4 separate regions of the Homo sapiens genome follow, and all the other regions are reported to be linked to region 4. Evidence: microRNA targets listed by miRTarBase, many of them from high-throughput screens and not tested one by one. Region 4 holds a microRNA gene; each other region holds the end of a gene's coding sequence.

Evidence for each region. The annotated mature microRNA hsa-miR-5691 reads UUGCUCUGAGCUCCGAGAAAGC and lies in region 4 at 3,916-3,937, opposite strand. An mRNA with a match to its seed (bases 2 to 7 or 8) in the 3' UTR can be bound and repressed. Matches are read on the target gene's strand: a 7mer-m8 pairs with bases 2 to 8, a 7mer-A1 pairs with bases 2 to 7 and ends in A, and an 8mer does both.
Region 1: the mRNA of CCDC142 is a reported target of hsa-miR-5691. Seed matches in the 3' UTR shown: 8mer at 4,211-4,218, 7mer-A1 at 3,820-3,826 and 7mer-A1 at 3,447-3,453.
Region 2: miRTarBase lists ORC1 as a target of hsa-miR-5691. The part of its 3' UTR that is shown has no 7-base or 8-base seed match.
Region 3: miRTarBase lists CD200 as a target of hsa-miR-5691. Seed matches in the 3' UTR shown: 7mer-A1 at 413-419.

Annotation. Positions count from the first base shown.
Region 1 is chr2:74,469,903-74,478,214 of GRCh38, forward strand. CCDC142 (coiled-coil domain containing 142) reads right to left here. Exons shown (of 9, transcript NM_001365575.2): 6 at 5,710-5,824; 7 at 5,323-5,500; 8 at 5,014-5,213; 9 at 2,930-4,900. The coding sequence ends at 4,644. It overlaps MRPL53 (mitochondrial ribosomal protein L53), which reads right to left and starts at 2,778. Exons shown (of 3, transcript NM_053050.5): 1 at 2,667-2,778; 2 at 2,456-2,568; 3 at 2,080-2,350. The coding sequence starts at 2,758. The coding sequence ends at 2,217. RefSeq lists enhancers at 2,187-2,316, 2,717-2,816.
Region 2 is chr1:52,370,659-52,373,658 of GRCh38, reverse strand. ORC1 (origin recognition complex subunit 1) reads left to right here. Exons shown (of 17, transcript NM_004153.4): 17 at 284-830. The coding sequence ends at 478. Among named protein-coding and RNA genes, the nearest start is that of CC2D1B, 6.0 kb to the right of the region's middle.
Region 3 is chr3:112,361,238-112,368,568 of GRCh38, forward strand. It overlaps CD200 (CD200 molecule), which reads left to right. Exons shown (of 6, transcript NM_005944.7): 6 at 306-1,575. The coding sequence ends at 313. Among named protein-coding and RNA genes, the nearest start is that of CD200, 32 kb to the left of the region's middle.
Region 4 is chr11:9,086,435-9,094,746 of GRCh38, forward strand. MIR5691 (microRNA 5691) reads right to left here and starts at 3,945; the gene lies at 3,878-3,945. SCUBE2 (signal peptide, CUB domain and EGF like domain containing 2) reads right to left here and starts at 5,165. Exons shown (of 23, transcript NM_001367977.2): 1 at 4,962-5,165; 2 at 3,273-3,395. The coding sequence starts at 5,094. It also overlaps the pseudogene KRT8P41.

The sequences.
Region 1 (8,312 bases), not on the chromosome of region 4:
TGATCCACCCACCTCGGCCAAATCCCAAAGTGCTGGGATTACAGGCATGAGGCACCATGCCCGGCCGGCACTGTTTTCTTAAACAGGGAGTAGTGAGAGATAAAACCCATCGCATGTTTTGGAAGGATAAAATTAAGTGGCAGCAAAAATATTTAGGAAATAGACTGGGTAGCAGAATGCAATAATGATGAATAGAGTGAATGGGAATGGAGAGATCACTTCAGAAGTTTTGTTTTGTTTTTGAGACAGTGTCTTGCTCTGTCACCAGGCTAGAGTGTAGTGGTGCAACCACAGCTCACTCTAGCCTTGAACTCTTAGGCTCAAAAGGATCCTCCTGTCTCAGCCTTCTGAGTAGGTGGGACTACAAGTATGAGCCACCTTGCCCAACTTTCAGGCACTTTTTTAAAAGACAGAATATTCTGAACTGAGTGACCAGATATGCAGAGAATGGAAAGGAACAGAACTAGAGAACACTGGTTTCCAGCCCAGGTGGCTGAGTAGATGAAGTGCCTGTTTTTAAAAAGGAATGGGTAAGTCAGGGAAGAGAGGCAAGTATATGTGTATGTAAGATTATCAATTCTATTTTATACAAAGAGAGTTGGTGGGATTTGGAGGAAATTGGTAGCAGGTAACCTGATTATAGCATAGAAGTTGGGATTAGAACCAAACAGAAATAGTTTAACCCCAGAAGGTGTAATTCAAGTTGTGAAAGAGGATGAGATGCCCCAGAAAAAAATAGAGAAGAAAAAGAATGAAGGTAGAACACCTGTGTGGTTCAAAAGAAAAAGGACCCAAGAGGGAGAGAAGTTCCACAAATGGGTGAATTAAGAGTTGCAGGCCGGGCACAGTGGCTCATGCCTGTAATCCCAGCACTTTGGGAAGCCGAGGGGGCGGATCAGGAGTTTGAGGACAGCCTGGCTGACATGGCAAAGCCCCATCTCTACTGAAAATACAAAAATCAGCCAGGCGTGGTGGCACATGCCTGTAATCCCAGCCACCCAGGAGGCTGAAGCAGGAGAATCACTGGAACCCGGGAGGCGGAGGCTGCAGTGAGCCAAGGTCACGCCACTGCACTCCAGTCTGGGTGACAGAGTGAGACTCTATCTCAAAAACAAGAGTTGTAGATGCGGCCAGGCGTTGGTGGCTCACGCCTGTGAACCCAGCACTTTGGGAGGCCGAGGCAGGAGGATCACTTGTGTCCAAGAGTTAGAGACCAGCCCGTGCAACAGGACAAAACCCCACCTCTATTTAAAAAAAAAAAAAAAAAAAAAAAAAAGATGGAACTGGGATACAACGATGAGAGCTGAAAAAACAGCACTCTGTTAGTGTTTTTGTTTTTTTTTTTTTTTTGAGACAGAGTCTCACTCTTGCTCAGGCTGGAGTGCAGTGGTGTGACCTCAGCCTACTTCAACCTTCACCTCCTGGATTCCAGCGATTCTCTTGCCTCGCTCGGCCTCCCGAGTAGCTGGGATTACAGGCTTGTGCCACCACACCCAGCTAATTTTTTTGTATTTTCTAGTAGAGGTGGGGTTTCTCCAAGCAGGTGATCTGCCTGACTCGGCCTCCTAAAGTGCTGCGATTACAGATGTGAGCCACCACGCTCAGCCTATCAGTGTTCTTTCACACAAGATTTGGTAAAAGTAAGAGGGCTGGGCACAGTAGCTCACGCCCAACACTTTGGGAAGCCAAGGTGGGAGGATCACTTGAGCCCAGAACTTCAAGACCAGCCTGGGAAACATAGTGAAAACCCTTCTCTACAAAAAAATTTAAAAATTAACTAAACGTGGTGGCGCGTGGGGCGTGCCTGTAGTCCCAACTTCCCAGCTACTTGGGAGGTTCGGCTAAGCCCAGGTTACAGTGAGCTAGAATCATGCCACTGCACTCCAGCCTGAGCGACAGAAACAGACCAGTCAAAAAAAAAAAAAAAAAAAAAAAAAAAAAAAAAGAGGTACCTTGAGTGAGTGGTAGGAGAAGCCAGAAGCCAAATTCAAAAGGGTTAAGCAGTGAGTGATAGTAAGAAAGTGAAATAAATTCAGGTTCATCCAGACACCTCTCTGATCTAGTCTTGTTCCAGAAACATTGTGGTAGCAGGGTTTTAAACTTTATTTTGCGCTCCGTGACCCTTCAGATAGTGATTTGAATGATTAAGTGAAACTCTTCTTAGGTTAAGTGTCCTAGTCCACGCTAAAATCATCTTGTTGGTCTCTTTGGCGCTGTCAGCGACCAGTATCAGCGCCCGGCTTGTCCCCGCTGCCCGCCGCGTCCCTGGCCCGGATGTGGGAGGCGAAGGCGGTGAGCATTTCCAGAGCGGTGAGATGAGCGCCGCGCATAATCAGGCGATGCCCGTCTCCTGGGGAAGAAACAAACGAGTGAGACAGGGAGGGACCGCAGTGCTGGGGCTTAGGGGCGCGCGGGCTGCTCGCTGTTCCCTCCTGCCCGTCTCCACCAAGCCCACCGAACAGCACGTCCACGCAGGGCTCGGAGCCGTCATGCCTCACGTCCGCAATCACTGAGCAGTTGAGATTAGTGGAGCGGACCTTCTCACTGCTCACCGTCTGCAGGAAGGTCCTACGGTGGAAAAACAGAGGAGCGCCAAGCTGAGGGCTTAAAGCCCCGGCTGAAGGAAGGCGCACCACTTCCCGCTTCTACCCACTTCCCCTTCGTACCTCGTCGATTCCACGTTTTTCTCGAAGGGACAGAACTGAACCCGAACCTGTTTGACAGGCCGCAGACCAAGCCGAGCCAAGGCAGCTGCCATGGTGACCTCCGCCCCGGAAGAACTCGTGCAGGCGGAAGTGTCGCATTGCGTGAGGCCGTGAATGGCTGCGCTTCTGCGGGATAGACTTCCGGCCGCCGGCTGCTTAGCAGGCCTGCGAACCGCAGCTCTGGGCTTCCTAGCCCAGGCGGAGGAAGGCAGGAAAGAAAGAGGTGGTTTCGGCACAACGCATGGGGGAGCCCAAAGTAGGCTGTCAGCAAATACAGCCTATCATGAATAGTCCTCTCATACGACGGTGAAAACCATAAATAAATGGCGCAAAAACCTCTTTGCACGAAAATACGCCCGTTTTCTGCAGCCTTTCCCCTTCTGTACCCTGCTGGGCCACATCTAGGCTAACTCGATCTTAAATCCTGGCTTCTTCCAAAGAGAGAGCACTAACACAAGCCGGGATGATCCACACCAGAAGGTAAACACCATTCAGGTAACTGAAGATTAAACGTAGTGAGCTCTGAATAGCCAAAGCTTAAACGTGAAAGTACTACAGCCCAATATTAGTAAATGACTGAAAATAGTAATAGGAAGGGCAGTACAGGGTAATACTGTCCTTGGGGCTGATCCAGGTATAGAAATGCCTATTAAACCTCTGTGGTTCTCCATGAATTAGCGTAGCTCCCAGGACTTAAGTTGAAGTGCATTCTAGCCAGTTTTCTTTTTTTGAGACGAAGTTTTGCTCTTGTTGCCCAGGCAGGAGTGCAGTGGCGCGATCTCGGCTCACTGCAATCTCTGCCTCCCGGGTTCAAGCGATTCTCATGCCTCAGCCTCCTGAGTAGCTGGGACTACAGGCGCGTGCCACCACGCCCGGCTAATTTTTTGTATTTTTAGTAGAGGCGGGGTTTCACCGCGTTAGCCAGGATGGTCTTGATCGGACCTCGTGATCCGCCCCTCTAGGCCTCCCAAAGTGCTGGGATTACAGGCGTGAGCAGGCGTGAGCCCCCTCACCTGGCCGAGCACTCAACTCTTTATCCCTGAGATATCTTCAGTGATGGAGAACTAGGCCTGAACCTCCCAAGGGTCTGACCTTCAGGTTCCAGGCTATGGTCTTGCTCTTTACTCTGGATTCCAGGTGCTGGAGTGATCTTGGATTTTTTTTTTTTTTTTTTTTTTTTTTGAGACGAAGTTTTGCCCTTGTTGCCCAGGCTGGAGTGCAATGGCACAATCTCGGCTCTCCGCAACCTTCGCCTCCTAGGTTCAAGCGATTCTCCTGCCTCAGCCTCCTGAGTAGCTGGGATTACAGGCATGCGCCACCACACCTGGCTAATTTTGTATTTTTAGTAGAGACGGGGTTTCTCCATGTTGGTCAGGCTGGTCTGGAACTCCCGACCTCAGGTGATCCGCCTGCCTCAGCCTCCCAAAGTGCTGGGATTATAGGTGTGAGCCACCATGCCCTGCCTAATCTTGGATTTTTTTTTTTTTTTTTTTTGAGACAGAGTCTTGCTCTGTCACCCAGGCTGGAGTGCTGTGGCTGGATCTCAGCTCACTGCAAGCTCCGCCTCCCAGGTTCACACCATTCTCCTGCCTCAGCCTCCCGAGTAGCTGGGACTACAGGCACCCGCCACCACGCCCGGCTAATTTTTTGTATTTTTAGTGGAAACAGGGTTTCACCGTGTTAGCCAGGATGGTCTTGATCTCCTGACCTCATGATCCGCCTGCCTCGGTCTCCCAAAGTGCTGGATTACAGGCGTGAGCCACCTCGCCCAGCCCCTAATCTTGGATTCTTAAGCCCAGGCTCTTTGTAGCTTATTCTCCAGTATGCTTTCCTCCAAGCTTCCAGTTCTGGGCTTCCTTAATATGCAATTCCAAATGTCTGGATTTTCCAGCTAGAGATGGGGAGCTCTTAACTTTCTGGCTCCTGGTCCCAGGCTCCTTAGGATTCAGGACTGGTTCCCAGGCAGGAAAAAAACGGCAGGTGCCAACGGGGTCGCTGGTGTTGCCTGAGGGCAAGCCAGGCCTGCTGATTTCCCACCAGGTAGCCCTCCGGGCTAGGTCCCCTTCCTCCTAGTGTGCTTTGCAGCTGACCTGTCTGGGCTGGAGATGTTCCAGGCTGGAGCGGGGGCTCCAAGCTCTCCAGGCTATTGAGGCAGCTGCTGGGCAATTTCGTGGTCTGGACCTCCTGACAAGCACCTGGTAAGGCAGGAGTGGAAGGTAGGTGGCTGCTGGGGATATACTGAAGCCAGATTAATGGTGAGAATAGGGTTTGGGACACACAAAGCAGTGAGCGAAGGGGAGTAACTCACAGCAACAGGGGGGCCTCCTGTGGACTTGAGACTTGGGCAGGGGCTGCTGCAACAGACACAGCAGGGCCCCATCCAGCTGCTGGAAGATGCTGAGCATGAGCAGGGTCTGGCGGAGATCAGGGGACAGGCTCCACTGCTCCTCTTCCAGCAACTCCCTGACCACTCCAAAGTCTTGTTTGAGCTGCAGCGCTCCCTGCAGGCTGAAGGCAGAGGTACAGTATGGCCACTTGACCCTCCTGCCTCTCCCACTTATCCCCTTCCTTTTCCCAGTTCCATTCACCCCCTGCCACTTCCACCTTTACTCCTGACCTGAACCGAATCCCATGGGTAAGAATGTGGTCAAGCCAGGCACCCACGATGGCCGTCAGAGCCTGACCAAGGGCAGGGGCCTGGGCTTGAGGTGGCAACCCTTGCAATCCTTGCAACACAGGCTCCAGTACGGTGCGGACCACTAAACCAGCATACTCACTAGGAGCACTGGGAGGTTCTGGAATAGAGAAGACAGAATATAAGGCTGTGGAGATCCATTGAACCCCTAAATGGAGTGTTTGGGAGAAGAGGGTAGGATTTCAGGAGGGAAGGGTACAGAAGCTGAGGACAAGGATGGAGACAGTGGAGGGGAACCGGAATTTGGAAGGGCTGAGACACTATTACCCCCTTGGAACTCTGGAAGGAGAAGCTGGGATGAGGAGTTACCAGGACAGAGACGAAGCCGCCAGTACCGACCCCGTGGCATGTAGAGCTTGAAACCTTGCATGGCTTGTTTATGACATTCTTGAGAAAAGACACTTAGTGACTCTTCAGGCAGGAGCTGTAGGGATAGGGAGAAAGTAAAAGGGGCTTGTCAAATTATGATGATCCTCTATATCTAAGGAGCTCTATGTCCAACTTGACATCCATAAAACCCCAGAATTGTTGCATAGTTGTGTATGCCTGGCCATTTTTTGAGGAGCAATGCCATAGTTGTCATTGGGTTTTCCAAGAGGTCTGGACCCAAATTATGAACAATTGCCCTAGGATTACCTTGCTCTCCCCAGCTTGGTTCAAAAGATGGAAAATCCTTGAGGTTAATTTTACTATACAAGAGCTTTAAGGAAAAAGAAAGACATACCCTGCCCCCACCCCCGCAACACACACACACACACACACACACACACACACACACACACACACACACACACACACACAGAGCATATGCCAGAAAGAGGGATTGTATGATCTGCAATGGGCAGAAATTGAGGGAAGAAAGGGGAATTACAACGACCTTTTATTTTTGAGGCAGAGTCTTGCTGTGTCGCCCAGACTGGAGTGCAGTGGCGTGATCTCGGCTCACTGCAACCTCTGCCTCCCGGGTTCAAGTGATTCTCCTGCCTCAGGCTCCCAAGTAGGTGGGACTACAGGAGTGCACCACCACACCCAGCTAATTTTTGTATTTTTAGTAAAGACAAGGTTTTGCCATGTTGGTCAGGCTGGTCTCAAACTCCTGATCTCAGGTGATCGGCCTGCCTCTGCCTGCCAAAGTGCTGGGATTACAGATGTGAGCCACTAAGCCACTACACCCAGCCTACAATGATCTTTTGGTTATCACCTACAAAAGGAAGACAAGAACTGTATGTAAACCAGAAGCAATGACTATTTGAATGTTCTGAGACTCAGGAAGTTTTGGAATGTCCTTACATTGAAAGGCATTATTATATATTATTATTCTTCACAGCCCACTCCAGAGCAATATAACCCATAAAGCAAGAAAAGGCCTATATGCTGGGTTTGTTTCTTTGGTTTGATAGGTTGTTTTTGGAGGGAGAGAACACAGCAATAAAGCTGGTTTCTGCTCTACAGCCCATCTTGAGGGAGAGGAACCCCAGTAAATGTGGTTAATGGCAGCTGCTCTGTAAAGAAATGGTAGATGCCAGGGAGCCTGAAGACAGGATAGACCTGGGGGCGGCCAGACATGGAGTGGAGCCCATATGGCTCCTGGCACATCTGACAACCTGTCTAAATCCAAAATCTTCCTCTCTTCTCCAGTAAATGCAAGCCCCCTTCTCCTCCCTTATTTATGTCAAGGAAATTGCCCTTTTGTCAACGGACTTTTGTTAGGAGCCTCTGTACTCAACACTGAGGGAATACAAGGTGCAGAGTGTGTGACAGTCTCTCCCCCACCCACTGGGATCTTATAGTCCAAACAGGAAGAAAACTCACAATGCCTCTTTTTTTTTTTTTGAGACCAAGTTTCGCTCTTATTGCCCAGGCTGGAGTGCAGTTGCGCAATCTCAGATCACTGCAACCTCTGCCTCCTGGGTTCAACCGATTCTCATGCCTCAGCCTCTGAGCAGCTGGGATTACAGGCACCCGTCACCATGCCTGGCTAATTTTTGTATTTTTAGTAGAGATGGGGTTTTACCATGTTGGCCAGGCTGGTCACAAACTCCTGACCTCAAGTTATCCACCCATCTCGGCCTCCCGAAATGCTGGGATTACACCCTTCTGCTCTTAAAATGTCACCCCCTCACTTATGAGGTAAAGCGCAAATTGTTGGGGCTGGTGTTCATGCCCTCCACAATTTGATGCCAAATTGCTTACTACCCTACCCCACACCCAACCCCAGTGAACATACCCACAAAAGGAACCTCTGCTCTGGTAAGGCCACCTCTCTGCTACCCCCACAAGGATCTACAAACTGCCCACTTCCAGTAACCCCAGCCACTCCTCTGAGGCTTCCCAGCCACCATCTCCAGCCATAGGCCATGTATGGAGCGTTCTTTAACCACATGCCCACTATAGCCTTCCTTCCTCAGGGCTCTATGACCGTCACTGTGTGCAGTACTCATGATGAGCCTGCTCTGGGGCATGTTGAGTTTAAGTAGACAGCAGTAAACTGAGGTAGAAATGCCCAACAGGCAAATGCAGATGTTTAACTAGAACTCTGGGAGCCAGGCTGGGTGTGGAGGCTCATGCCTGTAATCCCAGAACTTTGGGAGGCCAAGGCGGTGGATTGCTTGAGCTCAAGAGTTCAAGAACAGGGCACATGTTCTCAGATCTCCTGAGGGCTATGTCACGAGCCAAACTTCTAATTAAAAAAAAAATATATATATATATAAATAGATATAATATAAATAAAATATATATAGATATAATATAAATAAAATATATATATATACTTTTTTTTTTTTGAGTCTCACTCTGTTGCCCAGGCTGGAATGCAATGGCACGCTCTCGACTCACTGGAACCTCCGCCTCCCGGATTCAAGTGATTCTCCTGCCTCAGCCTCCCGAGTAGCTGGGATTACAGGTGTACACCA
Region 2 (3,000 bases), not on the chromosome of region 4:
ATAGATAAAATTGAAGCTCAAAAGAGTGCAGTAACTTGGCCAGGTCTACATATTTAGGTAAATGGTAGCACCAGGATTCGGGCCTGCTGTTTTCTGATTCCAAGGCTAGCATTCCATTCTGCCTCTGCATTTTGTGTACCACTGGGGCACCAACTGATGCCTTCTGGAGTGTTTGATATCCTGGGGGCCATGTGTCTGATTTTCCCAAATGAAGAAAGAAAGGAACAGAAAAAGCCCCAGGATTGTATTTCCTCTTAACCTTTGCCTTGCTATTTGTGTCTAGATATATAGTCAACATGTGGCACTGTGCAGAATGGAGGGACTGCCGTACCCCACCATGTCAGAGACCATGGCCGTGTGTTCTCACCTGGGCTCCTGTCGCCTCCTGCTTGTGGAGCCCAGCAGGAACGATCTGCTCCTTCGGGTGCGGCTCAACGTCAGCCAGGATGATGTGCTGTATGCGCTGAAAGACGAGTAAAGGGGCTTCACAAGTTAAAAGACTGGGGTCTTGCTGGGTTTTGTTTTTTGAGACAGGGTCTTGCTCTGTCGCCCAGGCTGGAGTGCAGTGGCACGATCATGGCTCACTGCAGCCTTGACTTCTCAGGCTTAGGTGACCCCCCAACCTCATCCTCCCAGGTGGCTGAAACTACAGGCACATGCCACCATGCCCAGCTGATTTTTTGTAGAGACAGGGCTTCACCATGTTGCCAAGCTAGTCTACAAAGCATCTGATTTTGGAAGTACATGGAATTGTTGTAACAAAGTATATTGAATGGAAATGGCTCTCATGTATTTTGGAATTTTCCATTAAATAATTTGCTTTTTCCTGAGTGTTTGTGAAGTTATTACATTATAATCATTACAAACATCTGATTATGAAACCAAACTGTCCTTCCTACAATAGTCCTTCCATGTGACTTTTATTTCTGTTACTAGGCCTGCCATTTATTTAATGCTAACATATATAAAATATAAGTACACGATTTACTTGTATCTATATAAAATAGTTCTGGGAGAGTATGCAAAAAACTGGTTACACTGATTACCTCTGGAAAGAATCAGATGGAAAGAATCAGATGGCCAGGGTTAGGGGTTAGAGGAGGACTTTTCACTGTATGTCATTATCTGTCTTAAGTTTCAAATAATATAAATAAAATTTAGGCCAGGGGCGGTGGCTCACACCTGTAATCCCAGCACTTTGGGAGGCCGAGGCAGGTGGATCAGGAGATCGAGACCATCCTGGCTAACACGGTGAAACCCTGTCTCTACTAAAAATACAAAAAAATTAGCCAGTTGTGGTGGCGGGCGCCTGTAGTCCAGCTACTCGGGAGGCTGAGGCAGGAGAGTGGCATGAACCCGGGAGGCGGAGCTTGCAGTGAGCTGAGATCGCGCCACTGCACTCCAGCCTGAGCGACAGAGTGAAACTCCGTCTCAAAAATAAATAAATAAATAAATAAATAAAATATAGTTTATAAAAAAGGAACTACTGGAAATAATATAAATCATAAGTAATCTCTAGCCACAAATAGCTAGAAAGTGTAATTTTTACAAAGGTACCATTTACCATAAAAACAAAACAAACCTTTAAATACAAAAGATTTATATGTCACAGAAAATATAAGGTACTTAGAAATAAATTGATTTAAATATTTATTTATTTATTTATTTTTTCCCTCTGTCACCAAGGCTGGAATGCAGTAATGGATCATAGCTCACTCCAGCCTTAACCTCCTGGGTTCAAGTAATCCTGCCTCAGCCTCCTAAGTAGCTGGGATTCCAGGTGTGGGCCACCATGTCCGTCTCCTAGGAATAAGTCTAATAAAGAGATGCAAGTAATCTCTAGATAGAAATCAATTCCAATCAAAATCTTGGCAAGGTTTCTTGTATGACTTTGCAGTTAATTCTAATATTTATATGGAAACCAACAACAGGCAATGAACATCTAAAACCTCATGAAGTACTGAGGCTGGGCGTGGGTGGCTCATGCCGGTAATCCCAACACTTTGGGAGGCCAAGGCGGGTGGATCACCTGAGGTCAGGAGTTCGAGACCAGCCTGATCAATATGGTGAAATCTCGTTTCTACTAAAAATGCAAAAATTAGTCTGGCGTGGTGGTGTCACCTGTAGTCCCAGCTACTTGGGAGTCAGGAGAATTGCTTGAACCCACCCAGGAGGCAGAGGTTGCAGTGAGCTGAGATCACACCATTGCACTCCAGCCTGGGCGACAGAGCAAGACTCCGTCTGAAAAAAATAAATAAAACCTAATATGAGGTACTGAAAAAAAACAGCCCCACCCGTGTACTAGTCCTGTCAGAAATGCTTGTCCTAAATTTACTGATGAGAAAATTATCAGACAAATCTAAATTTAGGGAGAAACTCTGCAAAGCAGCTGTTCAACTCATTGAAAATACTAATATCACAAGAAAAAAAACACAAAACATGGAGGAACTATTCTACACCAAAGGAGAATAGAGACATGAGAGCTAAATGCACTATATAAACCTTGACTGGGTCCTGGATTTAGGAAATATAAACAATTATAAACATTATTAACTATGTATTAGACAGAAGTATTTTGTAAGTGTTAAATTCCCCGAGCGTGATAAATTTGTGATTATGTAGGAGAATGCTGTTCTTAGGAGATTCATAATGAAATATTTATAAGTGATGTATTATGTCTGCAACTCATTCTCAAATCATTTAGCAAAAATATGTATTTCTATATTCACATATGTATTTATAATTACATATAATGGATTGAGGATCAATATCAATATTTTTAAAACTGCAATGAAAAAGAAAAAATGAGCCAGGCACAGTGGTTCATACCTGTAATCCCAGCATTTTGGGAGGCCAAGGCAGGTAGATCACCTGAGGTCAGGAATTCGAGACCAGCTCGGCCAACATGGTGAAGCCCCATCTCTACTAAAAATACAAAAATTAGCCAGGGGTGATGGTGTGCACCTGTAATCTCAGCTACAGGGGTGCTGAGGCAAAAGA
Region 3 (7,331 bases), not on the chromosome of region 4:
GTCTTACTATGTTGCCCAGACTGGTCTTGAACTTCTGGGCTCAAATGATCCTCCCGCCTCGGCCTCCTAAAACACTGGGCTTACAGCCACAAGCCACTGCATCCAGCCTACTTTTGTTCTTGTAAAGAGTCATAGTCCCCTCACACCATACTGGGTCAGAAATGTCTACTTCTTTATCTTTGCCAATGAATATACACTAGAATAACTCTGTGTTTCTTAATCTCTCTATTATTTATCTTCTTAAAATGTATTATGATAGAATTTACAAGTGTCCAAAGTTAATACCTTGTTTTTCTTTTATCCAGAGCCCTAAATAAGTCACACAGCACCCTGAAAGTGATTCCCTGGTCTACTTGAATTTGACACAAGAGAAAAGCAGGAGGAAAAGGGGCCATTCTCCAAAGGACCTGAAAGAGCAAAAGAGGTGGGAGCGAAAGCCTTAAGGATCCCACGACTTTTTACTGCCATCTGAGCTACTCAGTGTTTGAATCCCAAGAGGAAGTCAGTTTACCTCTCAGGTCTGTTGTAGGACTTGATTTTGTAAAGCAATGCCATGTTATGTGGTTGAAAGGGCACTGGACTTAGTTAGTATCAGGAGCACTGAGCTCACAGACTGACTTGGGCTCCTACTGGTGGGGACCTCTGTTAGTCACTTTACCTCATCCAAAGTATAAAGGAATTGGACCAAATAATTTACCACATAGCTCTAAAACTTAATTTAAAATGTAATTCCAGAAAAAAAAAGGGAATAAGCAAAGGGGGAAGAATTGAAAGAGAGAGAGAAGAAAGAATACAGAGAGCTTACCTTTTGCCTTTCTGTTGATGTTACATCTCTTCTTCCTATGTTCTTAGGTCTATGAGTCTGTTTCCCCATCATTTGGTATCTAGTCCAGTTCCTGCTTACTGCTTTGCTAATAGCTGGCCTTGCTAGAATCCTTGGTTTCACTGCTGTTCTTCATGTGCTTCTATGAGATTTACTCCAACACAAATAGGACTGAATTTATTGTGAAGTAACATTGGCAATCTTAACTTATTCATTTAACTTATTTTTATAGCTAGATAAATATTGTTAGTCTTAGACAATAGCTCACATTTTTTGAGAAGCATGCCCTCCCTGTCCATTTGTCTTATAACATGACCCAGCCCTATTTTACGTCATTCTAAATTCAGCCTCATATAATGAAAATACATTATGAAAACAGATGTTTAGGAGATTTCCTGTATAGCAGTCAGCCAATTCATATGCTTTGTCTCTGCTGGCTTCTTTTTCCATGCGTTAACTTTTCCCAATAGCAGAGGAGGCAAATATGAGCATACAATCCCTTTGTTCTAAAGATATTGTTCCAGCTAGTGGAATGATGTTGAATCTTTAATAACCATAATTAGTTGCTTTTTCAGTATCTTCTGCTTTGTCTGTGTCTATCCAGTGGCCTAGGAATTAAAGTGTAAGTTGTTTTCGCTGTTAAATTGGATATTTATATATATATATAGCAAGATTTTCATGTGTTATTTAATTCTGTATTGTTTCTTATATTTGTAGTAAAATATTGAACAATTAAAAGTGTTGACTCCAAATATTTGGCTTATGATATTCTCTTGGGAAATGTGGAAATGAATGATAATCCTTGTCTTTTCCCATCATATGTAAAACCCTCCCCTCCTCTCTATCTTTCCCCTCCTAAAAGATGAGCTGGGCTGGGCGCGGTGGCTCAAGCCTGCAATCCCAGTACTTTGGGAGGCCGAGGCGGGCGGATCTCGAGGTCAGGAGATCGAGACCATCCTGGCTAACACGGTGAAACCCCGTCTCTACTAAAAATACAAAAAATTAGCCGGGCGCCTATAGTCCCAGCTACTCGGGAGGCTGAGGCAGGAGAATGGCGTGAACCCAGGAGGCGGAGCTTGCAGTGAGCCGAGATAGCGCCACTGCACTCCAGCCTGGGCAACAGAGCGAGACTCGGTCTCAAAAAAAAAAAAAAAAAAAAAAAGATAAGCTGGTGTTTCTGACTAATCACAAAAACACAAATCAGATGTCTGGCCGGTGTGAGCTCCTTTGAGTTGGTGCCTATGTCCTTTTGACATGACCCTGTCAGTTCTGCAGCACTTCTTTATATGTGTTCTTTTGATTTTGCTTTTAGATACCAACCTTTGCAGACAGATTAGCTCACATAGTTTTGAATTTAGTGGGAACCAACCCCTTGTATTTTGCTGTATTTCTAGTATCTCTGCTAAATTGGTACTAGATCAGGCAGGATGACTTAATGCAACAGTTCTTAAACATTTTGGTCTTAGGACCCCTTTATGCATTTGAAAACATCATTGAGGATCCCAAAGAGCTTTTTCTGTAATGTGAATTATATCTGTTGATATTTATCATATTTGAAATTAAAACTGATAAAATTTAAATACAAAAATGTGTAACCATATATCCTATTAGCCATCAGAGTGATGCCAACATCAAACATCATATAGCTTCTGGAAGACTTCAGAGCACATTTATTAGAGAATGAGAGTGAAAAAGTCAAATAATTTATTGGTGTTATCATGACAATAATTTTTTGATTATGTGGACCCCCTGAGATGGTCTTAGGGACAATGCTAAAGACTACTGTTTTAAAGTATTGGCAAAGAAGAAAACCACCTTATGGGAAGATTTCATGAGTCTTTCTCAAAGGAACTCCTTGCTAAACATCTATCTTCATGGTACCTAAGCATTTCACCTTTTAACCAGGACTTTAGGCCATTGTATTACTGGGAGCTCCTCCTCAAAATGCAGAGAAAGCTCAAAGACTAATTTTTATCTATTGTTAATAATTCAATTTAAATTGGCTTATTAAATGGCTTTTCAGTTACTTTTCAGGATGTTGAGATACTTGGACTTAGGATAGGTATGTTTTATGGGGAAGACTTGGGAGGTTATAGAGAAATAAAGGGGAGAAGGAAAGGGTAATTGAGAGCATGCCTCTCTGCTGAGAAGGTGGCTCCATGTGGAACACCACAGCCTTGCTTTCTCCTCTATGTCTCCTGCCCTCTCACCCTGGCTGGCTGCTCACCAACCCTTCCATACTTATCCTAAACTTTCAACTATGGGTGCTTTTTTGTATTTGTGAATTAGAAAGAGGTAGCTTGGGCTTTGCATATTTAAGCAGATTGGGAAAGTTGTAAACTTTTGAGTCCCTTAGAATAACTCAGTCATGTATTTCTCTTCTTAGTAAAAATTCAGAAAAATTCCAGAGTAGTGCAAACCTGCTTAGAGAGAGGAGAAAACAGAAGAAGACTGTTGTGTTTAACTGAAACTGAAACTGCAAATGAAGGGGTTTTTTTGTCATTTTATGTTTTCTTTTTGGTTTGTATTCCTCAATCCGTGCCTTGATAACAATTCATAAATCTAGGTTCAAAGAGTACAAAATCCATATTACTACTAGGAATCATAAGGCTTTGATTAAAATAATTTTTTTGAACTTTCTTCTATGGCTATTCTGAGCTCAGAAAGAGTATTTTATTTAATTTTTGTTGTAGAGACAGGGTCTCACTGTGTCACCCAGGCTGGAGTGCAGTGGTGCCATCATAGCTCACTGCAGCCTTGAAATCCTGGGTTCAAGCGATCCTCCTGCCTCATACTCCTGAGTAGCTAGGACTACAGGCACACATCACCATGCCTAGCTAACTTTTTATTTTTTGTTGAGATAAGGTCTCACTATGATGCCCAGGCTTGTCTCAAATTCCTGGCTTCAAGAAATCCTCCTGTCTGGGATTAAAGAGGTGAGTGACTTTGCTCGGCCTTTGCCTTTTAAAATAAAGCTTCTTAAATTATTTCTTCACAGCGGTGATATTTTTATTTTTTGTTTGTTCTCAAAATATTCCAGATTTGATTTCATCCTTCCCTCCACAGTTGCTCAGGCTAATAATTCACTTGCACAAAGTCACATAGAGCAGTGACTCAATCCAAGCAAACCAACATTTACACAGATGTCATAATCATTTGTCTTGTGAGGTCCTGAAGGTAATTAACCCCATTTTTGTAGGTGTGAAAAATCATACTTTTCAGTGACTTCATACTTTTCAGTGACTTTCATACTTTTCAGCGACTTTCTTCCAGTAGCATTGTAAATGTGTTTTTGGCCAAAACTCCAACTCAGAAATCCCAGCTTCCTGTCTAGTGAACTCTCTTTTCTGCCCACCCTGCAGTGATTTATCTCAATCTTACTTGCCAGCGTAACCTATTTGTTCTGTACTTATATTCAGAATCCAGCTCCTACCTCCATTCTTACACCTGACCCAAACCATTATTATTTGTTTCCTAGATCATTGTTATTGCTTTCTAATTAATCTTCATGCTTCCGTGTTCTTCCTCTTTCAGTCTATTCGAAACATAACTGTTCTAAAATATGTCAAGTCAAATCACATAATTCTCCTGCCTAAAATTTCCAAGTGCTTCCCATCTCACCTAGAATACAAGCCAAAGTCTTTACGTGGGCTATAAGGCTCTAGACAATGGGCTCACTGATAATCTCTGAAGTCACCTCCTACTCTCTCTCCTGATCACTAGTCTGCCGGCTATTTCACCAACATTTCAGACATGTTTCCATCTCAGAGCCTTGGCATTTCCTCTTCTCTCTGCCTGGAATGTTCTTTCTGCAGGTACCTGCATGGCTCATATGACTTTTCCCCTGAAAAACACTCCATAGATACCCCAAAGATACTTTAATACTTTTAACCGGACTCATATTAGTCTAGATAGTGGGACACTTATCTCAGAAATTTGAAACTCAAAAAGAGAGAGAGTTGTGTGTTTCTAGGAGTAGCTTTTATGTTCCAGTGCAGTTACAGAGGCACTGAAGCCCAGCTGCTCAGGTGAAGCATTTCAATTACCACATGATTCTGGATCTGGTTGTGTTTAGCTCAGTAACTTGTATACATGTTAGTTTATTTTCTAATAAATCAGAGACAATATTGCAAATACATTCAGCCCTCCCTATCTGTGGGTTCCACATTTGTGGAGTCAACCAATCACGGATAAAAAATATCTGAAAAAAAAAACAAGAATAAAAATAATACAAATTTAAAAACAATACAGTATAACAACTATTTGTATAATATTTACATTGTAATAGGTTTATAAGTAATCTAGAGATGATTTAAAGTATGTGGGAAAATGTGCATAGGTGATATGAATATACTATGCCCTTTTATATTAGGAACTTGAGCATCTGCAGATTTAGGTATCCATGGAGGTCCTGGAACCAATCTCCTGAGGAAACCGCTCAGCAGAGAAAACCATTTCCTAAGTTTATATATCTATATTCAGGACCTGAGAGCTTACCAAAACTTTCCTGAATCGCTTTACCTTATGTGAGGTTCAGTGTTCCCATCACTGGTGTTTGATGTCCCTCCAACTACTTTGGCAGTGAGAAGGTACTCATCCTGTTTGAGAGATAATATGCACAGTTTTGAGGTTACACTTTATTCTGGAGAATCCCTTTTCCATTGCATAGATTTCCCTTGGCTAGAGTTGTTTTGTTTTCAACAGCATGTTTTTTAGCTTTGGATCTTGAGGAGAGAGAGCAGGAGAGCCAATAAACAAGTCTGGGGAGGGGAACGTTTCCAGATACGTCAGGTTAAAAATAACAAACCAAAAACCATGAACCACTCATTACAAAGCCAGATTTGAATGAATTTCCATTCACTCTCATGAAGTTTCAAAAGCTAAATATATTGGAGAGAACATTTCAACAGTGGTGAAAAGATGAAAAGAAAGAAAACAAGTAACTTTACATGATTGGATCACCATTTTTGTTTCATTTATTTAACCAAGAGATGGAATAGAGGTGCTGATATTATTAGGTGAAGGTTGTGATAATTTTATACCAAATAAATATATAATTTTCTTGTCATAAACTTTATGTTTTAATGAGTGGTTTTCATTAGAAAGTGACACTGCATTTCTCATCATTAGATTATGTGTTTCTGCCAGTAGCAGTTATGTTGATCAGAACAACAGCATGTGTCTCACAATAGATAGCATTTATCAAGCACCATTTTAGGCATCTCACTGTACTGGGTCCTGAGAGGTATTTGCAGAGGAAGACACTACTAAAAATCCTGGTTCTGAAGAAATTAAATATTTAATAAAGGACGAAATAAATCTACCTGCATGTATTATTTAGAAATGACTTGTGGAAATTCATGAAGTACTATCATGAATAGAAAATGAAATTCAGAAATATGTTATTTGTTGTTTTCTTCTTTCTCTTCCTTCTTTCCTTTCCTTCTTTTTTCTTTTTTCTCTTTCTTTCTTTCTTTTTCTTTCTTTCTTTCCCTTTCTTACAGAGCCTCACTCTTGTTGCCCAGGCTGCAGTGCAGTGGCACGATCTTGGCTCACTGAAACCTCTGTCTCCCAGGTTCAAGTGATTCTCCTGCCTCAGCCTTCCGAGTAGTCGGGATTACAGGCGTGTGCCACCACACCCAGCTAATTTTTGTATTTTCAGTAGAGACGGGGTTTTGCCATGTCGGCCAGGCTGGTCTTGAACTCCTGACCTCAAGTGATCCACCTGCCTCGGCCTCCCAAAGTGCTGGGATTACAGGTGTGAGCCACTGTGCCCAGCCAGAAATATGTTTATTATAATTCAATTTATATTTTGATTCTACATAATTACAGATGTAATGCTATGATATTTTGGGTATGGATGATAGGGAATAAAATTGGCATACATCGATCGTTGTTGAAATTGATGCCTTTATATTCTCCTCTTTATTTTGGTGTATGTTTGAAAATCTTATAATCCAAAGTTTAAAAAATACTCATATCTTACTTTGCTAAGCAAGAACACTAGTATCTCCTTTTTTTTCACAATATATTCAACTCTGCCACATTTTCATCTGGTTTCCAAATAAAATTTTTTCTCAACAACCTTGAATTCCATTACTATAGACTTCTATCAATGAAAACAGAATGCCAAACACTCTGCACTCAATCATTCATCAAAGCATGGGTGTTAAAATGAGTATACAACCATTCTCTTGAGAAGTATCATAGTAGGAAAGAGCTGACAGAAAGTCCGTGTACTGATGCAGTTTGGGTAAGCAAACAGAATATACTTTTGGATTTAGAAAAAAAATAAGTGTGGCCAGGATACATAGCACAGAGGTTTCCAATAGTTTCTCTTACCAGTTGGTGTGACTCTCTTGACCACCAATGATTTATCAGAGGATACACTATTGCAGACAATCAAGTTGAAATGATACTCTCTTCACACCTCTGGCAGCATCACTTCTTCCTCTATGACCAGACTATTCCTGCTCATGGCTTGAACTGGATGCAGGTGGGAGGTCAC
Region 4 (8,312 bases):
GATAAAGGAGTTACATCTTTGTATATCTACATCTTTGAATCCTTGCAATCCTCATTTCCTCTCCTTTTCCTTCTTGGGAGAAAATTTCCATTTCTGTACTCCTATACCAAGAAATCCAAACTAAGAGGGACATCCTGGCCGGGCGCAGTGGCTCACGCCTATAATCCCAGCACTTTGGGAGGCCAAGGTGGGTGGATCATCTGAGGTCAGGAGTTCGAGACCAGCCTGGCCAACATGGTGAAACCCCATCTCTACTAAAAATACAAAAATTAGCCGGGTGTGGTGGTGCACGCCTGTAATTCCAGCTACTAGGGAGGTTGAAGCAGGAGAATTGCTTGAACCTGGGAGGCGGAGGTTGCAGTGAGCCAAGACTGCACCACTGCATTCCAGCCTGGGTGACAGAGCAAGACTCTATCTCAAAAAAAAAAAAAAAAAAAAAGAGGGACATCCTTACTTACTAGTATTGTAAATACTACAAATATTCAAAAGATCAAATTCTTCTAGGGTTTGAGTTCCAAACGACAGTACAAAGGATGTATGCTCACTGTTAACCATGACTATCTGTGGATAAATGGATGGGAGGCTCTTTAATTTTTTATTTTACACATTTTGTATTATTTGACTTTTTATAACAATCACATATCATTTTAAAATAAATTTATATATATATATGGCACAATGCCAGTCAATCATTAGTTATTTTAAACTAAATAATAGACTTTTAACAATTCAACTATAAACTGTTAGCAATTCAATTTCATTTGAAATATATCAAACTCAAAAGCCAAGAGTAAGGAAACTCTTGCCAATTGTCATTTAACATCATTTACTAAAAGTGTACTTTATCTAAATAAAGTCAGTGGAATGGTTTTGTGCCACCAGAGAGCACACAGCAACTGGAGGACGTGAGTTATCCACATAGTAAAGAAGTGAACATTTGTTTCCAAAGCAGGGTACCAACATGTGTGAATTCCAGTACAGCAAATAGAATATTTAATACCGAAAGTGTGTGGTATGGAGGAATCAGCAGATAAATGTTCTGGGGAGAGATAGCCTTTTGGCCTCCCATGACATGGCAGGGGGAGGGGGGAAGAGAGAGAGAAAGAGAGAGAGAGCGTGAGCTACTTCATGGATGGATCACCAACCCCACTTGCTATGCACCTGACCAGGACCACACCTTCTCCAATGGGAGCGGTGGGAGCCTCACTCCTCATGCACAAAGGGGAGCTCCCTGAATGATATCCCAAGGGGTGTCACCAGATCCAAACTTGCCCGTCATAATCCCATCTGTTATTCATATTTGCTGTCTATATTTTCTTTTGGTCTTCCCTTCCTTTGTAACAAAGTTCATTGTAAAGATCCCATTTCTTGTCTCAGCTATGCTAAGACAAGGAGATGGGTGGATAGGGAGGATCAGGTCATTGCTACAACACTGCAAAAGCATCTGACAGTCACTTACCTACTTGGTCATCTGTATATTCTGTATCTAGATATTTCATTTGTGGGTTTGTCTGTTTGTTGGAAAAGACTTTGTGTCAAGGTGCTAGTAGACTGAGCCCATCTTACACAATCACTTATTCAAAAATAAGGATGTCTATTCAGTGTCTACCATGTACCAGGCACTGCTGAGCATTATATACTGTTCCAATATTTAGAATCTTTATTACTCAGAGGCCACAGTATGAAACAGATTGGTTTGAAACATCAGGGTCTGGACACTAGGCCATTAAATGGCACCAGAATAGACACTCATTAAAAGTTTTCCTCCTCTGGGTGGGCATAGTGGCTCATGCCTGTAATCCCAACACTTCGGGAGGCCGAGGCCAGTGGATCACCTGAGGTCAGGAGTTTGAGACCAGCCTGGCCAACATGGTGAAACCCCGTCTGTCCTAAAAATACAAAAATTAGCTGGACATGGTGGCAGGCGCCTGTAATCCCAGCTACTTGGGAGGCTGAGGCAGGAGAATTGCTTGGTCTCACACTCCTGGCCGGGGATGAGGAGGCTTCAGTGAGCTGAGATCGCGCCATTGCACTCCAGCCTGGGTAACAAGAGCAAAGCTCTGTCTCAAAAAAGTTTTCCTCCTCATCTAAAGAAGTTAATATGTTTTTCGAAGTGGAAAGAGACTTGGAAGGACTTTCTTACTCATTGTGTAGCTTTAGATCCTGCAAGTATTCAGAAGATCAATTCCCATGGGAGTTAAGCCCAAGTTCTAAAGAGTTTAAAACCTCTCGAAGAGGAAGGGGCCACCAACATACTTGTCAAGGTTGGGTCCAGGAGCAAGGAGGGATACTCAGAGATGAGTTCAGTGCTCCTCATCTAATTTCTTCCTGCAAGGGATGACTATAGACAGTGGGATTTCTCACTCATCCAAAGAAGGACAGCAGCAGGCTGAGTAAATATGAGAAACGTGGGGTTGGGGACAGAGCTAGGGGTGGAGACCTGACTTTCTTTCACTTGCAGGCAACTTGTGTGATCATGGCCACAACTCCTCTGGCCCTCAGTGTCCCCATCTGTGAAATGAGTAATAGCATTGGCCCAGAGCTACCTGAATAGCCCAGTCAGCTCCAATGTGTCATGATTTCCATCTCCAGGAACAGCCTCGAGTGTCCAGTCTCTGGCCAGCTATGAACTTCACAGTTCATGACTCTAGTCCAGATTATAAAATGGCAGAGTCCAAACCACAGGTTCTCAGACCTGCAGCTCTATGGGCTAAAATGCCCCTCTGCACACATCTCTCCAGAGTGAACCTGTAACTCCAAACGAGGAAGGTCCTTGGTGTACTCTGAAGCTTGGCACGTCACAATGCCAAACATTGTGGCCAAAGCCATAAACAGGATGGAGCCTCCTGAGCTGGTAGGGGAGGGCAGGACTCTCTAGCACTCAGACTTCAGGGCAAAGGTACAAACCGCCCCAGGGAGGTGCAGGATCAGCCCTGCTCTGGCAGGCATGGCTCTCCTGATCAGCATGGATGTTTACTTTCTGCCCCAAAACTGAGTGGGACCCAAAGATACTAACACATCTCTTTTCTTTTCCAGAAGCTAGACAAAAGGACATTTCAGAGCCAGATAAAACTGTGTGAGCAGCTCTGGGGAAGACCTAATGTTTCCAGTCCAAGATCTGAAATATATTTCAGAGAGCAGGTGATGTGATTCAGGGGCTGGGGGAAAGGGAGAGGAGGGGCAGTACTTTTACCAACATAAGTGGCCACTGCAAGAGCTAAGGAGGTAGGAGCTTCCCTACAGTCCCCCCACATGGTCCCCAAGGCACTTACCCTCACACTGCCTGCCTTCCCCTTGGTAGCCAGGCTTGCAGGAGCACTTGTAGGAGGTGGGTGTGTTCTGACACAGGGCGTCGGCATGGCAGTCATCTAGCCCTTGGGCACACTCATCTACATCTGCAAAAGAGCACAGCTGACACCTGGTACAGGCTCCCAGGCCATGTGTGATCTGGCCTCGGCCCTGTCTGGCATCATCCTCACCAGCCCACCCCGCTTCACTCCTCACAAGCTACAGCTGCTTGGGATCCCTGGGATAAACCAAACTGTTTCTGGGTCCCTGTTTCCAGGAACAGCCCGGACACTCTACGTGAAATTACCCCCACCATCACCTACTGGCCTTCAGGACTTAGCTCAAATCCACCTCCTCCAGGAAGCCTGCCATGACCCCCATTGTAGCTGCCCTCACCAAGTGCTCGCATATGTATGGCTTTGCATGCACACATCAGGCAGGGTTGTCACTGTTTTCCTTCCTCTCTCTCCACTAGACAATGTCTTGACAACAGACTGCGTCTGTGTCCCTTATGCCAAGCCAGCGCAGTACCTGGCATGTGAGTAGGCAATAGTACCTACATGCCCGCTAAAGGAGGAAAGGACCAAACGGACAGACAAGCTCTGAACACCAAGCAGCTGTCTGTCAGCTTTCTCGGAGCTCAGAGCAAGCTTGTCCAACACAGCCCGTGGGCTACGTGCAGCCCAGGACAGTTTTGAATGCGGCCCAATGCAAATTCATAAACTTTCTTAAAACATTATGAGATTTTTTTTTTATTTATTTATTTATTTTTTTTTTTTGCTCATCAGCTGTCGTTTGTGTTGGTATATTTTATGTGTGGCCCAATTCTTCTTCTTCCACTGTGGCCCAGGTAAGCCAAAAGATTGCACCCCGCTGGTTTAGAGTATTTATGGGAAGTCTGCCCCGGGATCGGAGCAGATGTCATCCAGGGCTCTCAGATGCTGCGAAGCGGGGATGGTGTCCCCATGGCCGGCCCCCTGCACTCCCACCCCTGCCCATCCTCTCAACCTGGAAACCCGCCTTGGCAGAAGTATTTCCTGGGTTGACACTACTCCAGGATATTAATTAAAAACAAAAGCATTTTGAAAGTATTGCAAGTCCAGTAAGCACAGCACGTCCAGAGTCCTCTCTGGAAACCAAAGTTCTCTGCTGAAAACCTAGGCTTGTTGCTGCTTCAGGGTAATTCCCAGATCGGAACAGGCGCTGTTCCGCTGACAGAAAAGTCTCTGGAGCCCACCCCGAAGCCATCAGCAGAACTTGCCGGCCCCCAAAGAAAGAAACGGCAAAGCTGCCACCGCCTCGCGGATGTGCCCGGCCCGGCCCTCAGTTTCCCCGCCTACGCTGAGGCGCGGGACCCCAAGGCCAGGGTCCGCACCCTCCTGCCTGCTCGCCGGCGACGGTCTGACTAGCAGGCGCTCTGGAGGCATCCGGACCGGGGCGGGAACCGTCAGCAGCTCCGGGTCCGAGGCCGGGCCGAAGGACTCAGGGCCCCAGCGGTCGTGGCGCCTTGGCCCGGCCGGCGGGTGAGGTCCCGGGGGGAGCAGAGGCCCCCGCGGAGCTGCAGCCGCCAGCCCCGAGCCCCGCGCGCCCGGCTCTGGACTCCGCCGGGGACCTAAACACTCTTCCTGGCCCTGCCTGCTGTGCCAGGTGCGCCCCCGCGGCCGGACACTCACCCTCCTGCGGCCCCGCGGCACGGCCCCGACCCGGCGGGACGGCCCCCGCCAGCAGCAGCAGTGGCGGCAGCAGCAGCAGCAGCAGCAGCACCGCCCAGGCCGCCCCGGGACGGTTGCGGCCCGCGACCCCCATGGATGGCTCAGCGGTTGCGGGCAGAGGCGGCGGAGTGCGGGCGGTGGCGGCGGCGGCGCGGGGAGGTGTGCGCGGACGCCCTGCCCGCTGCCGCTGCCACCCCCGGCCCGGCCCCGCCCGCCCCCCGAGCCCCGGCCTCATTTTCACACGGTCCCTCCCGGGCCGGGGCGGGAAGCGCAGGCGGGAGCAGTGCCGCCCCGCCCGGCCTCCTCCCGTCCCCTCCCCGGCCTCGGGTGGAGGGGGCGCGGCCGCGGTGGCCCGAGCGCGGCTGTCAGCCTGGCGGGGCGGCAGCACCGTGCCTCGCGCCCCGCGCAGCCCTGGCACCCAGCCCGCTGCCCCCCGCATCCCCGCTCCGCTCCAACGCTCGGAGCCCTCGGTGCCGCGCCTGTTCCAGTGTGTTACAACTCGACCCAGGCCCTCATGTGAGGACAAACAGCCCTTCTAGATTGAAATATTCGGGGTCAGGGCGCCCAGAAAGTGTTCCGTATAGTCCCCAAACCCCAAAGCCATCTTGGGGCTTTCCACGTGGGAGGTGGGAGGTGGGAGTGGAAGGAATTGGGGGTGACTTCCAATTCGGGAAAACAGCTGTTTGAATGGAGAAGGTGACCCTGGCTTCTCTGCCCACCCCAGCACACCCTCTGCACCCTTCTCCACACTGCCCACCCCAGGCCCTCTGGGATCCTCCATCCCACAGCCCTGAGGGCACTGGTCCACTTGTCCCACTGTGGGGCACACTGGGCCTAGAATCCCTGCAAGCTACTTATGTATATCTCAGGGCAGCCTAAGGGGAAGGGGGCTAGAGGTCAAAGGTGAGCCACCAGAGACAACAGACAGCAGCCCCGACTTTGCCGGAGTACAGGTGGCATTTACGATCACCTGAACTCATAAACATCAGGTCTGGCTAGCTTCAAACACAGGCAGGGCCTAGCACCTAGCCTTCCATGAAAGACAGTCCTTGCAAGGGAACAGGTACACAGGGTCTTCCCATATCACACTTGACACGGATGGCTGGAGCCCAATACACCCACCATCACTCCAGGAACAAATATAGTAACAATTTCCGGACGCAACCAAACATCACACTTAGGGATAGTAATGTTCTTCACTGAGCTTCTCCGTATTTATTCAATTTTCTCCTGCGATTATATACATACACATATGTATATATGCAGGCACACGCACGCGCGCACACACACACACACCATTCCTTTGGAGATCAGAAAAAAAATAGATGTCACCAAAAAATCCCCACCTAGCTCATGCACAAAAACTCTTATGTCTTCTTGGGGCCTATCCACAGCCCAGAGCTCCCAGCCTCTGCACCCTCAGTACCCACTGTCTGCCACCCCAGCCCCCGAACATGCCCACGGGGGCCTGCCTCTTTGGGCTGTGGCTAGTGCAGCTGCTTGATGGAGCTATCTGAGAAAATAACTTTTCTGTAGTTGTTTTTCTTTTGACCCTTTCAGTGAAGGCAGGCAGGTTGCGTCCCTCTTTCTGTCTGCGCCTCCCTCCCACTCCCTTTTGTTTGGTGCTGAGAGAGACACTCAGCTATTTCTGGTCATAAGGGTGGTTTTTACACATTTGTAAATCTTCAGTTAGTGAAACGTTCTCTCCACCTTTGTCTTTGTGTCCTTAATGGTAGCCATAAATTACTGCCTTCTTTTCTCTCCACTGCATCAGGCTTCATTGCTTTTGAAATGATCAAAGTTATTTCTTTTAAAATCCAACTAGAAACTGCCCATTGTGTGGCACAGACCTCTTTAGCTCCAGTTAAAGCATATAAATACATAAAGCTGCCCATTAAACTCTAGGGGGAGCCTCCTGCAGCGCCCTTGTGCCTGGCAAAGAAATCACACATGTGCTATTCTTCCCCTTTACCTTTCCCTAACTTGATCTTTCAGTAAGGACATAAATTAATAATGACAAGAATCAGCGCCTTTTTGCCTAAGACTGTCAGCTTTTGTCATGTTTCCCAGAAAAGTCCACCACTGGCACAGATCTCAAAAAATGTTCTGTATCCTATTTTGTTTGCGCTGACATCCTTACAAACGTGCTTTCAGCTGTTGGCTCCCAGACTCCTGGGCAACCTTTTTGACACTTGAGATTAAAGTCAATATGGCTTACAACCGGGAATTTCCACAGGGGGAAGCTCCAGGGGAAAACTGTGTCCAAATGTCAGTGTTTTTGGTGTCAGGAGGAACTTGGTTGGCTCTACTCTGGCTGCAGGCTGCCCTCTATTCTGCAGCTGAGGTCCCCACAAACTTCTCAGAAAGGCCTCAGACACCGTCCCTGGACTGAGGCTAAAGCTCCCTCTTCCTCTCCCTGTCTCCTCTCCACAGGCTGAGAGGCCATGAACCAGGCCTCAGGGGTGCGAAGAGGCAGTCCAGCCAGCCCAGTCACACTGGTGTGGGCCTTTGAGGAGGCTGAAGAAAGCCTGGTAGTGGCCGGCCATGCGTGCCCCTGAACTACACATAAGCAGGTGCCACTCTGCACTCATGGGACACCATTCAGTGCCCACCTTTCTTGACTCCCCCCCCGCCCCCAGCAGCCTCTGACATGTGGACTACTTCTCCCTGGTGGAAACTCTCCTTACCCTTGGTTGTCATCGTGGCAAACTCCTGGTTTTCCTCCTACCTCTCAGGAAATGCCTTCTCCACCATCTTCTAGGAGTCCTCTTTCTATACCCTCTCTCTGGATGGTTCACTCATTCCCTTGATTCCATAATGTCAATCTCCAGCCTGGATTCATCCCCTTGGTTCAATCCCATGTATCCAGTTGCCTACTAGATACCACCTTGATCTTCCCTAGATCCCACCTTGATCTTCCCTAGATCCCTCTGATTGAACATGTTCAAAACGAAGCTCATGACCTAGAAGAAGCTTCTCTGCTTTCTCGAATCTCTGCCTGGTTCAGCCCACCCACCCCTCCACTACTGCCTCCACCATGTCCATCAGGGTGACCCAGAAGTCCTACAGGGTGTCCACCTCTGGCCCCTAGGCCTTAAGCAGCCGCTCCTACACAAGCGGGCCTGGTGCCCATATCAGCTCCTGGAGCTTCTCTCAAGTGGGCGGCAGCAGCAGCTTCCGGGGTGGCCTGGGCACCCGCATGGCTCTGGGTGGAGGCTATGGTGGGGCCAGTGGTATGGGGGGCATCACAGCCATCATGGTCAGCCAGAACCTGCTGAGCCCCCTTAAGCTGGAGGTGAACCCCAACATCCA